Homo sapiens: one gene and its partner. The protein of the gene in region 1 purifies or fractionates together with the protein of each later gene. This does not show direct contact. Each region holds a gene or a part of one and is shown in the gene's direction. Other genes may lie near its edges.

What was found.
Region 2: the proteins of VPS41 (region 1) and TGFBRAP1 purify together in Homo sapiens (affinity purification with mass spectrometry; 4 studies listed by BioGRID and IntAct, with this or other methods). This does not show direct contact.

The regions. Positions count from the first base shown.
Region 1 is NC_000007.14:38,724,192-38,731,998, reverse strand, and holds part of VPS41 (vacuolar protein sorting-associated protein 41 homolog), read left to right. Parts: intron 1-3,207; coding exon 3,208-3,307; intron 3,308-3,412; coding exon 3,413-3,457; intron 3,458-3,564; exon of another isoform or gene 3,565-3,658; intron 3,659-5,010; coding exon 5,011-5,090; intron 5,091-5,672; coding exon 5,673-5,753; 3' UTR 5,754-7,807. UniProt on the Homo sapiens protein: Plays a role in vesicle-mediated protein trafficking to lysosomal compartments including the endocytic membrane transport and autophagic pathways. Acts as a component of the HOPS endosomal tethering complex.
Region 2 is NC_000002.12:105,263,635-105,271,263, reverse strand, and holds the end of TGFBRAP1 (transforming growth factor-beta receptor-associated protein 1), read left to right. Parts: intron 1-1,558; coding exon 1,559-1,992; intron 1,993-3,704; coding exon 3,705-3,881; 3' UTR 3,882-6,850; downstream 6,851-7,629. UniProt on the Homo sapiens protein: Plays a role in the TGF-beta/activin signaling pathway. It associates with inactive heteromeric TGF-beta and activin receptor complexes, mainly through the type II receptor, and is released upon activation of signaling.

The DNA.
Region 1 (7,807 bases):
AGCCAGCTGTATATTTCAGCTGGACACACACTAAATGAAGTTGGAGTTGTGTTTGAAAAGAAGGAGCAGGAATGGTAGAGGGCAAGAAAGTGTCAGCTGTGTCTGTAATACTTTATTTTCTGGAATGAGATCTGAAGCACGTGGGAAAATATCAACAGATTTGTTAAATCTAGGTGGTAGGGACTGGGTCTTTTTTTGTTTTCAGTTTTTTTTTAATATTTCATATTTTAAAAAGAAAAATAGCACAAAATAATGAAAGATAGTGCTCAGATCAAGAGCAGCAGTGCTCAGTGCCATTCTGGTCATCGAAACCTGAGTAACAGAAGAGTGTGCATGTGCCCTAAGTATGTAAAGAACATCACATTTGCAAGTTAGAAGGGAGATGGGGAAGGTGATGATAGTCTGTGGTTGCGAAGATAGGCTGGGTAAGATGACCTTGAAACATAGCAGTCATCCAAAATCATGAGTGTGAAGGTCAAAAAGAGGTGAGGATGACCTGCTTACGCCAACTGCTGTGGCATCTGACTTTTGGCCATCAGTGTCTTTATAAAAAAGACACTCATGGGAAATTGCAAGTATGAATTTTTGAGGGTGAAATGAATGTGAACAACAGCACATTTTTCATGAGTCACTGATGGAGTTGCTACTAGGAATCCATAGTCAACATAATGCCTTGTCCTATGTCTGATGTTGAAAGCAATACCTGTAGATTGTAGTACATTATAATCTTGTACTGTCTTCCTTCACTTATCACCTTTAATTGCCTACACATTATTACAGATGTTATAGAATAAATGATTACATTCTATAGAGGATAGTCTCATATTTTGAAATACCTGCCTGGGATCATATAAATGAAACTTAAAATGTTTTCCTGTTTTTCTGATTGGGAGCCTTGAATTTTGACCAAATGAAGTAGGAGATAGCAGTAAGCTGTATTTGTGTACTTTCCCCTCTCCTGGCTGTTTGCCTCTGAATAATGAATTTTCCTAGAAAATGCTATCTGCAGGCGGACAGATTGTACCTGTTTAGAAAAATGTAATCCTGCTGAGGATATGGCTCCTTCCTGGTTTGCATATTTTGCTGTTTTCTTTTTTAGCTTGTAGACACAGTGGCCTCTGTCTAGACTGCTGGCCCTGCCTTTCTCTTATATAATTCATGCCATGGGCCTGGAGCACCCACGAGAGTCAGAGCCATTTTTTAAAATTGTTTTATCTGAGATGTTGTGGTTGAAACCATTACTCTTAAGTTTTTTATTTTTGTCTTGGAGGCTAAGCAGCTTTATATGTTTGCTTTTAAATTTATTTAAAGTTTCCTGACATCCATATTTCTTAGCTATCTTTCTTACTGTATTTGTTATTTTTCTCTTCTACCTGTATGTTTTAATGCAGTCTGTTAAAATTTTAATGTATTTTTTTAAAAATCCAAAAAAAATTGATTCCTGGTAGAATTTTAAAGAATAAAACTTCATAGGCAGTTTCTCAATTAATGTAGGAATACTAAAATCATGTAATTTCCTGTTCATCAATACTAGAAATGGCAGGCATAGAACTTTAATCTAGACATTAGTTTTGTTTTCCTGAATATTAATTTGTCTTTGTATAATTAGGGGAAAAAGGCTTTCGGCTGGATTCACCCAAAGCCAGTGCTCTTTGGGATTTTCAGAGGAACACGTGGACCACTGAGGATAGAGGGCTGCAGTTGGCTGCTCCCTTACTTTTCTTCCCCAGTGGCATGAATTTAAAACTTATGAAAGCAAAATGCCCATCTAGCTTGTCAAGTCGAGAGTGACTTCAGTATGAAGAAAGCCAAAGTGCCCCCTCTAAACAGTGGCACTTGCCCGTGAAAGACACATGCTTCTCAGCCTCAGAGCTGGGCTGTGGTGAGACAGCGCTGTCTGTTAATGTGAACTTCTATGATGTGACATGTGTAACTGCACATAACTGCGTATGATAAGACACATAGGGCCCAAAGGGAGAAGCCACAGGCACAGCCCCAGAGCGTCTCTGTCCTTCAGGCCTTGAGTTTCTCCCTCTGAAAAAGCAGCAACAAGTTCTGGTTAAAAAAAAATAATAATAATAAATGAAATGACATCTGGCTTATGCACACCTCCTGGAGCCTCTCAGTTTCCTACTAATACCTAAGAAAACCCAGCAAAGGGTGGGAGCTCACACTGTGCCCCACAGAATGGACATGAAAGGTAAAGTGTCGCCTGTCCCTGCTGTGTCCCCACCTAAAAGCAGGGGAGGATCTTGGACCCCATCGTGCCTCCAGTTCTGAAATACAACATTGGTACCAGCCAGAAATGGGCATCATCCTCCACTGTGTGCTTCTGACTTCTGAGGCTGCCAAAGCATTGTGATGTCTCTTGTCATTCTCCAGGCAGGAAGGGAGGAAATAGTAAAAAGCCTGCAGGGGAATAAGAAAAATGTGTAAAGAAACAAAAGCTATAATGCTGGGATGAAGAATAAAGAAAAGGACTCTTATGAGAGAATATTTGTATTCATGGTCATTTTTCAAACCCCTCCCAGGAGTCACCAAATTTGAAGGTTATTATAGTCAGTTAATACCACACACACACACACACCACATTCATAGCACTATGCTGAATGGTTTGGATTAGATTTGGAAAGAAAAAGATAGGTTGCATCCTCAAGGGGATTTAAGACAGAGATTGTATCTGTTTAGTTTATTATCTATACCCAGTACCCTATACGTGATAGGGACCCAGTACTTATTTGTGCAGTAAATAGATTAATTTATGAAATAAATTGATGATTTTGGAATAGCAGGTTTTCATTCTGGGTAAAGATCTGAAGAATGGAATGAACACATGATGTAGGAGCCAAAGTCTGCCCAAGAGGATCTGTATAAGGAAGCCCTCTAAAGTAGCAATAGGGTTAGTTAATATAGGGCCTTCTTTGCCAGACTTTGGAATTTATGTTTGATTATACAAATGCTACAGGAGCCCGTGTATGGTTGGAAGAAATGATGAAATGACGCACAGAGTAATGAGTGGATCCTGGCTGGCCAGGTCAGCCTGGCAGTGGTTTGGCAGGAAGAGGGTACTGAGGGCAAGAGAATCAGTGAGTGCCCCTTTTGAGTATTTCAAGCATGCCAGCTTTTGGAATCCCCAGTACAGTGTCCCTTCACCCCTCAGATTTGAGTCTACTTAAGATGGCTTTTCTTTTAAAATGTATGCATTAGATTCTGCTTCGTGAAGGCTGCAAGAAGATTCTCGTAGCTGACTCTTTGTCCTTACTGAAGAAAATGCACCGAACTCAAATGAAAGGTGTTCTTGTTGATGGTGGGTAAAATTGAAATAATCATATGGAACCACGTGCCCTGCTTTCAGAAATGGCCAAGCAGGTATAAACAGGGCATAATCCAAAGTATGTGTGTTTTCTTACAGAGGAGAACATCTGTGAGTCGTGCCTTTCCCCTATTCTTCCATCAGGTAAGAAGGTTTTCCCCAAAAAAATCCCAAACATGTATTTTAATGATGAGTGGAATCAAAATTTTGGAATTAGCCAACTACCGTTTATAAAACTATATAACTTTCAGAATAACCCAGTGGAGAGAAGTGTTGTGGCTTCCATCCTGCTCAGTGGAATGCTGGTGCTGCCATTGCTTAGAGCTGAGGTTCTCAAGCTCTAGGGTGAGTCATCGTCACCTGGCAGGCTTATTGGAACCCAGATCGCTGACCCAGTCAGACTCCCTAGAGTCTCTGGTTCCAAACTTCCAGGGCAGGAACTGAGAATGTATATTTCTAACAAGTTCCCAGGTAATGTTGATGCCACTGGTTCAGGGGCCCTTCTTTTAGAACTGCTAGTCTAGGGTAAAAACAAAATGAAAACTAACCATCAGCATTTAAATTTCAAGGTAGAAGAACCATATACATGTCTGGGAAAAAAAATTTATAGGTAGCATTCCCTTTTCTTTAGTGTTTTTCTCTGATATATGGTTCTACATGCCCAAGTCATCTCACATTTCAGTGGAAACATACATAATCCCTGCCATCTAATTGGAACTGTGAGTCTTTAAAAGACATAAGCATTTGTTTATTTCTAGTTCTTGGCAGATAGATATATGTCTTCATCTGTAATGAAAAGCACCTTCTTAAGGTTTATTATGACAGAAGAAATTTGCATAATTCAAAAGCGGAAACTAACAAAGCATTGTTAGGATGCTAACAAATGCTTTTCAAATATAAGTTCAGCATAACAAAGTACTAAAAGACCTAGTTGACCTCATGTTTACTTAGGATTAAAGGATTATTTCATGGGGCAGTCCATGAGAAGTTGTTCTACTTAGGTTCTTTTCTAGAGGAATTAGATTTGGATGTTTAAGTGCTTCTGTTGAAAACTGCATGGGCTCAGGTGAAGAAGTGAGCTTCCATAGCATTTCAGACAGTGTTGCAGCAAAAAGGAACCACATACATTCCCACTCTACAGTTAGATTTAACTCCAAATTTACTCTGCTGATGACACTAAATCTTACCAAAAATAAGCTGGCCACACAGAGCAGGAACAGATGAGGGGATCTGCCCAAGCACAAGTGCAGTAAAATGCAAGGTCACCACAGCCTGGGCTTGTAACCCAGGTCCGCCTCTGAGTCAGTGTGTGGTCTTGGCAAAGGTAGCAGGTGGACTGGCAAAGCATTTTTATGAAGCCACAGACTCAACTTCAGCTGTGGTGTATAATGATTATAGGGGTTAGGGGCGCATTGGCACATACACTTGCTGGTTTTCCTACAGTTGTCCTCAATGTAGTCTGGGTAAGTGACACAGAGGCTAAGCAAGTAACCTGTGAATCGCATAGCAACATGATTATAATACCTGTTTTGTGTCTGATCATACCACCCCTCAGGAATGCTTTTGTAAATAAGCCATTCTCTAAAGGCACCTTATTGCTGAAAATTAAACTGCAACTCGACTTTCAGTCGGGATTGGTTTAAAATGATCTTGCTTGTTGCATTAAGTTCTCCTCCTTTCTCTGCCCTCCTCGCCAGATGCAGCTAAGCCCTTCAGCGTGGTGGTCTTCCATTGCCGGCACATGTTCCACAAGGAGTGCCTGCCCATGCCCAGCATGGTGAGTTGGCAGCTTGGCACCTATCAACTAGAGGGAAATTAACACACTTAGAGGAATGTGCTTTAAACTGTAACCCTTCATCCTTATGGCTGTATGGGTTAAAAAAAAATTACAATGTGGATTTATATCACATAACAAAAATTAATCTAGTTTTCAAATGTAAAAATATTTAGAAATGTTCTATGTACTATAGTAAACATAAAAGCATACCCATTTGAAGGAATTCATTCAGGCCCAGTTGACAGCTGTCATGCTGTAGAGATGAGCAACAACAGTAGAGAGCCATTGTGTATCTTATGTGTTTCTCAGCCTGATTTGTGTTCCATGATGCTATCATTTTTTTAGTGTCATATTCCTCCAGGTCACATTAGACGTATTCTGCTGTTGGGTGTCCTTGGAGTCACAGAGTAACAGCTGATCTAGACTAAATCCTATGTTAACCAGAAATAAACTCCAGAGAAAGGAGTGCCATCCTATTACTTCCTCTCCACCCCCTGACTAACGCTACCTTAGTGTTTCTGAATATGAGAGTAGAAAAAGAAGATCATTTTTTAAATATGTGTTTTTAAATTGCATTTTTAGAACTCTGCTGCACAGTTCTGCAACATCTGCAGTGCTAAGAACCGTGGACCAGGAAGTGCAATTTTGGAGATGAAAAAATAGCTCATTTCTCCTTGTCAGTCTCCTTGTCACCACTCTTTTTGAGACTGTTTTTGCAACAACAAAAGCATTTGTTGACACTCGTGCTGTTAAGAGATTTGTTTATGTTTATATTATACTCAAAAACAATTTCTTCATCTATTCCTGTACTAATGGTTTCTCTTTGCAGTTCACAGAGAATTTGGGGCTCTCTTCATGCCTTGAAATTTTGGGGTCCATAGTGAATATTTTGTTATTTATTTGTTTGGCTCATTCTTTATATAGTAATGGAAACATAAGTCTAGGAGTTAGAAATGAATTTTTTAGACCTTAGTAAAACCATTTAACCATAAAATGGACAACTGAGAATTCTCCCAGCTGCCTGAAAGCGTCGCCAACTGTGGTTATCCTGCAAGCTGCTACCTGCAACTTGGACGTTGTTTCCACGTGCTCTGCTGGCTACGATTCTTGCATTCTGGGTTTGGCTTTTTTCTGTGTCATCAACTATGGTTATCCTCTAAATAGGCATTTAATGAAACATTGTACAAATTGTCACTCATTTGATGACACCTGGGAATAACATTAGCAGGCTGATGTCCTGCACCATTATGTTTACTAATCACATGTTCTGTGTGCTGTGACGACTGTCAAAGAGTATCTGGCCATGGCGGACACTCAGCATTTGTTGATTGAATAAATGTTAGCTCTTCTCATTGTGAAGGACTCACTTTTACTGGGATAAACAAATGCAGTTAAGAATTCTGGCACCCTTGTAAGGAAGAAAAGAGAGTTCAACACCTTCGAGTCTGAGCGCTTGTGGCTAGAGTTTGCCAGGAGGGAGGAAACCAGTGACCCTGAAAACTGAGGGTGCCTCAGGAGCAGTGGGACCACCTGATGCTGAAGGACGGACTAATGATGTTTCCTCTTGCCTTCTCTGGTGCCTCCATTGCCCTCATGGAACAGAGCATATCATAGAGGGAGAAAAGTCAAACTTGTAATTGTGTCTTACAGTTACTGGCTTCATCTTCCTTGGGATATATGGTCATCCTCTAATGAGTGTAAAAGTGCGCAAAACACATCCTTATTGTTCCTGATCTCTTAGTCCCATAAATGGGAACAAATACAGCTTTCTGCTTCTTTCTTTTTGGGGAAAGGACAGGGTGCTAGTGAGTACTGACAGCATGCCAGCTACCGAAGTCACCCAGCCATTCCCATGAGCAGCAGTTCATTTAATTGTCACAGCGTCGCCAGGAAGAAGATCTGATAAACCTAGGTTTACAGATAAAGAAAGCAAAATGTAGAGATGTTGTTGAGGTCACAGAGGTGACTGCCTAACTTCAGAGCAGGGCTTCTGATCCCTTTAAGAAATTACAGGGCCAGCCGGGCATGGTGGCTCACGCCCGTAATCCCAGGGCTTTGGGAGGCCTTGGCAGGTGGATCACCTGAGATCGCACGTTCGAGACCAGCCTGACCAACATGGAGAAACCCCATCTCTACTAAAAACACAAATTAGCCAGGCGTGGTGGTACATGCCTGTAATCCCAGCTACTCAGGAGGCTGAGGCAGGAGAATCACTTGACCCCAGGAGACGTAGGTTGTGGTGAGCTGAGATCGCGCCATTGCACTCCAGCCTGGGCAACAAGAGCAAAACTCCGTCTCAAAAAAGAAAAGAAAAGAAAAGAAATCATAGGGCCAAGTTCAAAGGAAATGCACAGAACATATCTTCACATTAGAGTTAAGAATTCTCTAGCAAACAACAGATTTTTTTGTTGTTGTTAGTCACAAATACTTAGAACTGGAAGGCTCTTTGTTATTATTGAATGTACCCCTCAGCCTTCTCAGCATTTCCTTATCCCAAGACTAGTGTGCTTTCTGCTACACTGCTAGTTTTCAGTTTTGTTCTTACCCAATTGTTTTTTCTTTTCAACATTACCAATTTACAGATTCAGTTTATTACATTTACATTAATCCTCACTTATGATTTGAGCAAGCTCATTTCCAGAAAAGTTTACTTTAAGATCATCAATAGGATTTGCTAATTTCAGTGAAGTCATTTTGCTTCAGGGGTAAATTATCCT
Region 2 (7,629 bases), on another chromosome or scaffold:
CACTGTGCATTGAGGATACAAAGATGGATGAGACTTGGTCCTGGTCCTCAGAGACTCAGAGTTTAATTGGAATGCAGTTAAGGGCAGGTACAGTTCTAGAAGGGCCGAGGAACCCACGAGCTGTGCCTTGGGGTGGAGGGGTCAGAGGCAGCCTCCCGGAAGAGGCCCTATATGAGCAGTCATTAGGTATAAGCCTGGGCTTGCAGGTAGCACAGGGGAGCTTTCAGGCAATGGGGGTATCCCCCGCAGCACTGTGGGAGGAGCACTGGAAATCCAAACACTGATTTTGTATCCCTTCTTAGTTAGATGACTTGGGGAAATGTCAGTCTAGGGAAGTTGTAAAAACGATTCCAGCCCAACCTATCCACTCGGGGTGGCTGTGGGAGTCAAATATAAATGAGATGATAGATGTGGAAGTGTAAATCACCACAGTGATCTTTTCTTAACTGTCTTTGTACCTCACCCAGGGTCTTAACTATGGCAGCCACTTAGTAATTATTTGTTGGCCTTCCACTGTGAGGATGAAGGCGTTGCGTATTGTGGCTTCTGTGTCTAGTGCTATAAGGGATGTACCTTGCAGGGCCAGCCCTTGGCTACACAGGTAGCAATGTCTGCCATGTTCTTCAGGCCTAAGCGACAGCCAAGATTCAAATGCCTATAATTTGATTATTAGTCTTGACCCTAAACTAGGGGTTGTCCTCATAATATTTCTTCACAGTAGGAAGAGATCTTATAATCTCTTGAGGATGTAAAAACAGATGAGCCTCACTTCTGGTCCTTAGAGACTCAGAGTTTAATTGCAATGCAGATAAGGGCTGGTGCAGTTCCAGACGGGCTGGGTGGGAAGTTACAGATGGGGTTACAGATGGGGTAGGAAGCAAGGTGACTTTGCCCGTGAGACACAGCCCACTAAGGGTGGGGCCTTGGTCAGGAATGACGCTTTGGGTTATGTCATTTTCCTTAGGACCTGGAAGCTTAATTGCAGGTGAAACAAACAAAAAAATCCTATTATTGGCAACCTTCTGTTGAGTAATGTAGAGATGGATTTTGAATAATATGAGCTCATATTCCATTCAATGAAATCTACTTTACATTGGAATAAAGGGGTTCAGCACATCTTTTGGGGGGAAGTAGTGTTTGTTAGGATTTTAGGGGACATAGTGTCCTTCTATTTTAGTCAAAAGATACTGTCCTGGGAGGATAGGAGTGATGATGGAGTGACTGGAGACCTGGAAGGCTGATACTCACTGAGCCACTGGGCCTTTCTGTAGTTGTGGTTCATTTGTTCTTTTCATCCTCTGAACACTAGAGAAAGGAATTATTCTGTGGTCCAGCTATACTTTTGAGTAGAGTCTGCCTTCTGTTTTACTAACACCTGGATTCACAGTGTGAAAATGCAAGAAAACCTACCCTCAGTCATCTGGGTGGCAGCATTTGGCATTGTGAGGGAGCCAGGTTGACTTTTCCCCTCCTGAAGCCCAGAGCAGCAAGGAGGCCAGTCGCTGGGCGGGTGGCCGGCGAGCCCCTTTCTTTCTGAGCTGCAGGTTCTGTCTTGCAGAGAGGCTGCAGGGAGCTGGCCTGCCCATGGAGAGCGCCATCCTGCACGGGAAGCTGGGCGAGCATGAGAAGGCGCTGCATATCCTGGTGCACGAGCTGCAGGACTTTGCAGCGGCCGAGGACTACTGCCTGTGGTGCTCCGAGGGCCGAGACCCACCCCACCGCCAGCAACTCTTTCACACGCTGCTGGCCATCTACCTGCATGCTGGCCCCACTGCCCACGAGCTGGCCGTGGCTGCCGTGGACCTGCTGAACCGCCACGCCACCGAATTTGATGCAGCCCAGGTGCTGCAGATGCTGCCTGACACCTGGTCAGTGCAGCTCCTCTGCCCATTCCTGATGGGGGCCATGAGGGACAGCATCCATGCCAGGAGGACCATGCAGGTGGCTCTCGGCCTGGCCAGGTCCGAAAACTTAATCTACACCTACGATAAGGTAAGTGCTGGCCCCCACGAGCTGCTTCCTGGTCAGTCAACATTGTACTGAAGGTAGATTTTACTGATGGAAAAATAGTCTTTGTTGGTTTTTCTTTTTTCTGTCTCTATGACTACAACACATCAATATCTGATCCTACTCATAGAAACTGAGGTCTGTGTGAGCAGAGGCAGAGGCTGGGCTGGTAGGTGTAACATCGGTGTAGTTTTTCTCCCCTTTTGGACGCTGGTGATTAAGAGAGTCTGTAGGGAGGAGAGCAGCATCAGAATATCAGGCGCTTACCCAGCATGTGCTGTGTGCCAGGCACTGACCTAGGCATTTTACGTCATGCTTGCATTTTGTCATCATGACAGTTTTATGCAGTATTTACTGTCAGCATCTCCATTTCACAGGAGAGGAAATTGAGGCAGAGAGCAGTCGCATGCTCAGGAAATGGGCGTGCCCAGAGCTGCCTCCCAGGCCAGTTGAGAACCCCACATTCTTCGTCCCCACACTGTACTCACCTTCGGGAGACTTCTTTCTTGTGGGCCTAAATTCCACATGGCTGGCAGAGTCTTCTTTCCAGAGCGGGTATCCGACGTGTTCCCCTCCCACTTAGAAGCCTTTGCTGACGCTCCCTGTCCTGGAAGATGCAGTCCCACCTCCTTCAGCATATCCCTCCCCACCTCTCTCTGCTTCCCAGCTCATGTCCTGGCTTTAGCACAACCTTCCAGATGTGATTTGGTATTTCATACTTTGTTGCTTTTGTAAATGCTGTACCCACTGCCTGAGATATTCTTACCTTTTTCTTTGTCCCCAGCAAATGCCCAGTCAAAATTTAGCCTTTATTTTTTTCCCTTGGTGAAGCCATCTCATACCTCTTAAGTAGAGTAATCACCTTCTCTTTCACCCACTTTTACTTGGTGTTCGCATTCACAGCTGTTACCCGCTACTATTAGAGTTTGGGTTCTTTGAGGACAGGGAACTTCATTTCTTTATCTCAGTGTCTGTAGGGCTAAGCCTGCCATGTCGAAGGCATCTAATCCGTGTTTGTGGAATGACTGATGCAACTAAGGAGTGCAGGATGAATCGCTAAGTTGCTGCTTGATCCTGCCAATAGACCAACCTGCCTCGGTTGACACGAGTGAATTGTGTAGAAAAACTTTATAACTTTCAGAACTCAAGTCCTGTTGATCAGACAGGGACCGATGGCATTAAGACTCAGTTTCACCAGTTACCTCTAAGGAAACGGAAGGGTGTCTCCCAGGACCAACCAGGAATATGCCACTTGTTAGCTGTGTAACTTTGACTACATCCCTTATTTGTTTGTGCTTTACTTTTCTTATTTGCAAATGAGAGAACCCTGGAGTTACACTATTATATGGTCTCATTCAGCATTAACATTCATGACTTTCTAACAGGCCTTGCTTGAAATGATCAGAGCCAGAGAATGTTGGAGAGAGGATCTTAAGTAGAAATGCCTCAGCCAGACAAGCAACAATTACTTTTGTGAAATAAGAAAAGCAATTGTGTAACTTTCTTCCTTGTCCAGTTACTAAGGATGGTTTTATTTACACCTTTAGCATTTCATTTCAAGAAGTTGATATTAAAGAAATCCTCATCATAATAATAACCCATGGAGTAATGCATGTCAACTCTGCAAAACTAGAACGTAGCCACTTTAAATATACTTAACACATGACAGCATTCTCAGTCTTGGTTTCTTCTTGCAGATGAAGTTGAAAGGAAGCTCAATCCAACTCTCAGACAAAAAGCTTTGTCAGATATGCCAAAATCCCTTTTGTGAGCCTGTGTTTGTTAGATACCCAAATGGTGGTCTTGTGCACACCCACTGTGCCGCCAGCAGACACACAAACCCCAGCTCATCCAGTCCTGGCACTCGGACTTGAAAAGCTTGGCCCAAGGGTGCGAGGGGAACTCCGAGTTCTTTCTGAGCCTGCTGGACATGAAGAGCAGATGACCACCATGCTCTGTGTCAGCCAGGACGAAGGGAGACATCTGGGTGCCAGGGAGCCTTCCGTCCATACGCAACAAGGACTCCTCGCTGCTGACCAGGCTCTATGAATGTACATGGAATGACCAGGCTCTATGAATGTACATGGAAAACCCCTAAAAATCCCCAAAACAGAAACATACAAGAGTTCACCTGTCCAGGTACATAGTAATCCAAGACAGAGGTCTACTTTGAAAAAAAAAAAAAGGGAGTCTTCCTCATGCAGTCCAGACCCAGGTGGGGGATCCCCCACCACCCCCACACTCCAACCTTTAGACTCATGTTTGCACTGGAAACGTGGCTTCACCATGGCTGGCGACAAAGTCCTCTCTTGCCTGGGTGAGTGGCGAGGGCACAGAGCCTCATGGGGGTCAGCCTTGCCCTCCTGCAGAAACACGTTCTCCATCCACGCCGCTCACTCATGGGCCCATTTCCCAGGGTTACCTCGTGGGCTCTGCCTTTGCCCTCAGAAACGGCTGACCCTGGAGAAGTACCTTTGTTCCTTCTTTCTTCCTCTCCGGCTCTCAGCTCCCAAAAGATTCTGCCTTGTGTACCCAAGCACTCACTCTTGGGTGAACTAATGCTTCTGGCTGCCTAGCAAGTGAAGATCTGTTGAGAAACTGAGAACGCTCCAAGAGAGAAGCTGCTCTCCCCTCCTTGAAGAAGCCGCGGACACGGGAAACCCACGGCGGGCAAGGGCCCAGCTGTGTGCTCCTTTCCTGTCATGGCATCTGCTGATTTGAAACTCCATGACGAACACGTTGAACTAAACATTTTTATTTAAATTTGTATCATGTTCGTAGTTGCTCTCTTGTTGAGAGAGTCATCTGTCCTGTTTGTTAGGGGTATTTTTTCTTGTTAAAATGTATCTCCTGTTGAATACTCGGGAAATTCAAAGGGAAGTGTGGTCAGCACACACTGAGCGTTCTTTTCTGGAGAGGCCGGTTTTAGCCTCGTACCTTTAGCAGGACCGACAGCGGGTGGAAGGGCCCGTGTGCTGGATGGGGGTGTCGCCTCCTGGATGGCACACCCTCCCGAGGACATCCAGACAGGCTGTGTCACCCTCCAGCACTTTATGTGCCTGCTCTGAGGTGTCCTGAACACACAGCAACGGCCTCTCCTTCATCACAGGCCGGGGATTCCTTTTGTGTTTCTGTATAACATCGATGACGAGCTGAAGCTGTTGTCACTTCACTGCCCTCTTTGGAATTTCTTCATTGTGCTGACTGATTCTATTAGGGGCTAACAATAAAGGCAGTCTACCCACTACTATCATGCTTGGGAAACAAGCGTCAGCTTGTACATATGACAAGAGAGGACCCTGAATACACCCTCTCTTCATCAGCCCAAGCCTTACTGAGGTGGGATGAAGACCTCATTCTCTGTTCTTTAAAACATGTTTCGTGAACTAATATTGGTCCATGTATTTTTTGTCCTTTTGGGACTCTAAGTGGGTCAAGAAGCAAAAACATCCATGTGTTGTTTGGGGGGAATTGGCACCATTTTTTCCTGACTATGTTTCAATTAACTAAAGAATAAATGATGAAGAAATTCTCCTTGTAGCACAACTGTATGCTGTGTAAATTGGTGTGAGCTCAAAGCCCAGTCATGTGTTTTACCTGTGGGTGACTCTGTTGTAGAATGGTCATATTACTGCATATGTTATCATGACAACTTGTGAGTTTGAGTTTATATTTCTCAAAGAACAAGTTACCCGTATATGCAACATTGCGCCATTAAAAGCTTATTTCTCTGTACACAAAATGGGTAAAATCTTGAAAAAACTTAGTAATTTCTCATTCCTAACACACAGACAGAGTCTCACTCTGTCACCCAGGCTGGAGTGCAGTGGCGCAATCTCGGCTCACTGCAACCTCCACCTCCTGGGTTCAAGCGATTCTGCTGCCTCAGCCTCCCGAGTAGCTGGGACTACAGGTGCATGCCACCACGCCCAGCTAATTTTTGTATTTTTAGTAGAGACGGGGTTTCACCATGTTGGCCAGGATGGTCTCGGTCTCCTGACCTCGTGATCTGCCTGCCTCGGCCTCCCAAAGTGCTGGGATTACAGGCGTGAGCCACTGCGCCCAGCCAACACTAGTCATTTTTATTTTTTCACTGAACATTGATCAATACTCTAAAATGTTTGTCATCCTTTAGAATAATGGGAATTAAAGTTGAGCAGTTTTCCATCTCTACCAAATCCTTCACCACAAGCAGCATTCTATTACAGTATGAAGAATTGTCTCATATGTTAAAACTGTACTTTTCTCTAACCTTTCTCTCACTCCTACAAGGCCCTTTTCTCAAATCATATTTCTGAGAGAAATGTATGGTTCTTTCTCACAGGCCTGCTGATTTGTAACTGTGCCATCGAATAGAGCAATTAGATCCATCAGACCTTTTTCCCCTCATTAGGTTCAGTGGAACCATTCTGGTTAAAACAGCATGAACTGAACTCAGTTTACATTCATATTCTATGGGCAATACCATTTGGTTTTTGGAACTGTTTATCTGCTGTTCCCTATCAAGTATTAATGTAGGGATGTCACTCAGGCTGCGTTGCACTGGGCTGAGTTCAACTGCGACGCTCTCACTGACGCGTGCTTACATGTGCTTCTCACTTCCGGAGCACAGGCAGGTGGCTGCGGGGTCCCAGCTCTGAATGGATGCCCATGATGCAACTGGGGCAGCCCTTGCTTTTTGCTTGCTCTCCCACAGAAACCTTTGTCCTTGCAACTTTATCCTTTGTCCCGATTGGGTCCCAGATACACAAAATGTACAAATGTAAACTTGCTCATTTTATTAAAATTCTTTTAGTTCTTTGTTCTTTCTGTAATTTTTTAAAATAAAAATTGCCTTGATGGAGTGATGGTTTTCACTCGCACCATACCTAGTCTAAATAAAGAGTTCTAGAATCTGTACCTTCTTGCTTTTCCTAGCACCTACAGAGGACTTGAGTTGCCAACCCCTTAAATTCTGCTATTGTTTTACCAAATTTTAACGTGTCTGCTTCTGAATTTACCCAATGCATATTTTAGGGTGCTCCTTGACATTGGTTGCCATCAGATTAATCATGCACTGAGGAATTCAACCAGGGAGACTTCTGATTACTTCTTATCTACTTTACCTTTTAGCCAGATACTCTTAAATAAGGCTGCACTCTTGGATTTCTAACCCTGAGCATATTCAAAGAACATAACTCTTACAAAATCGTACCTTTTAAATTTTGCTTCATCCCCTACACTGTTGTTGATGGCAGGTCTTTCAGCTATCCTGTTGAATTTCAGAGCACTTTCTCATGTTCTTTAATTCCAGGTGCTATTCCCACCCTGAAGAAAGGGGTATGTTCACACACATGATAATCCTCTGAGTTGTTTTGTTTTGTTTTTTATGAGATGGAATTTCGCTCTTGTTGCCTATGCTGGAGTGCAATGGTGTGATCTCGGCTCACTGCAACCTCCACCTCCCGGGTCCAAGTGATTCTCCTGCCTCAGCCTCCCGAGTAGCTGGGATTACAGGTGCCCGTCCACCACACCCAGCTAATTTAAAAAATATATATTTTTAATAGAGACAGAGTTTCACCATGTTGGCCAGGCTGGTCTTGAACTCCTGACCTCAGGTGATCCACCTGCCTTGGCCTCCTA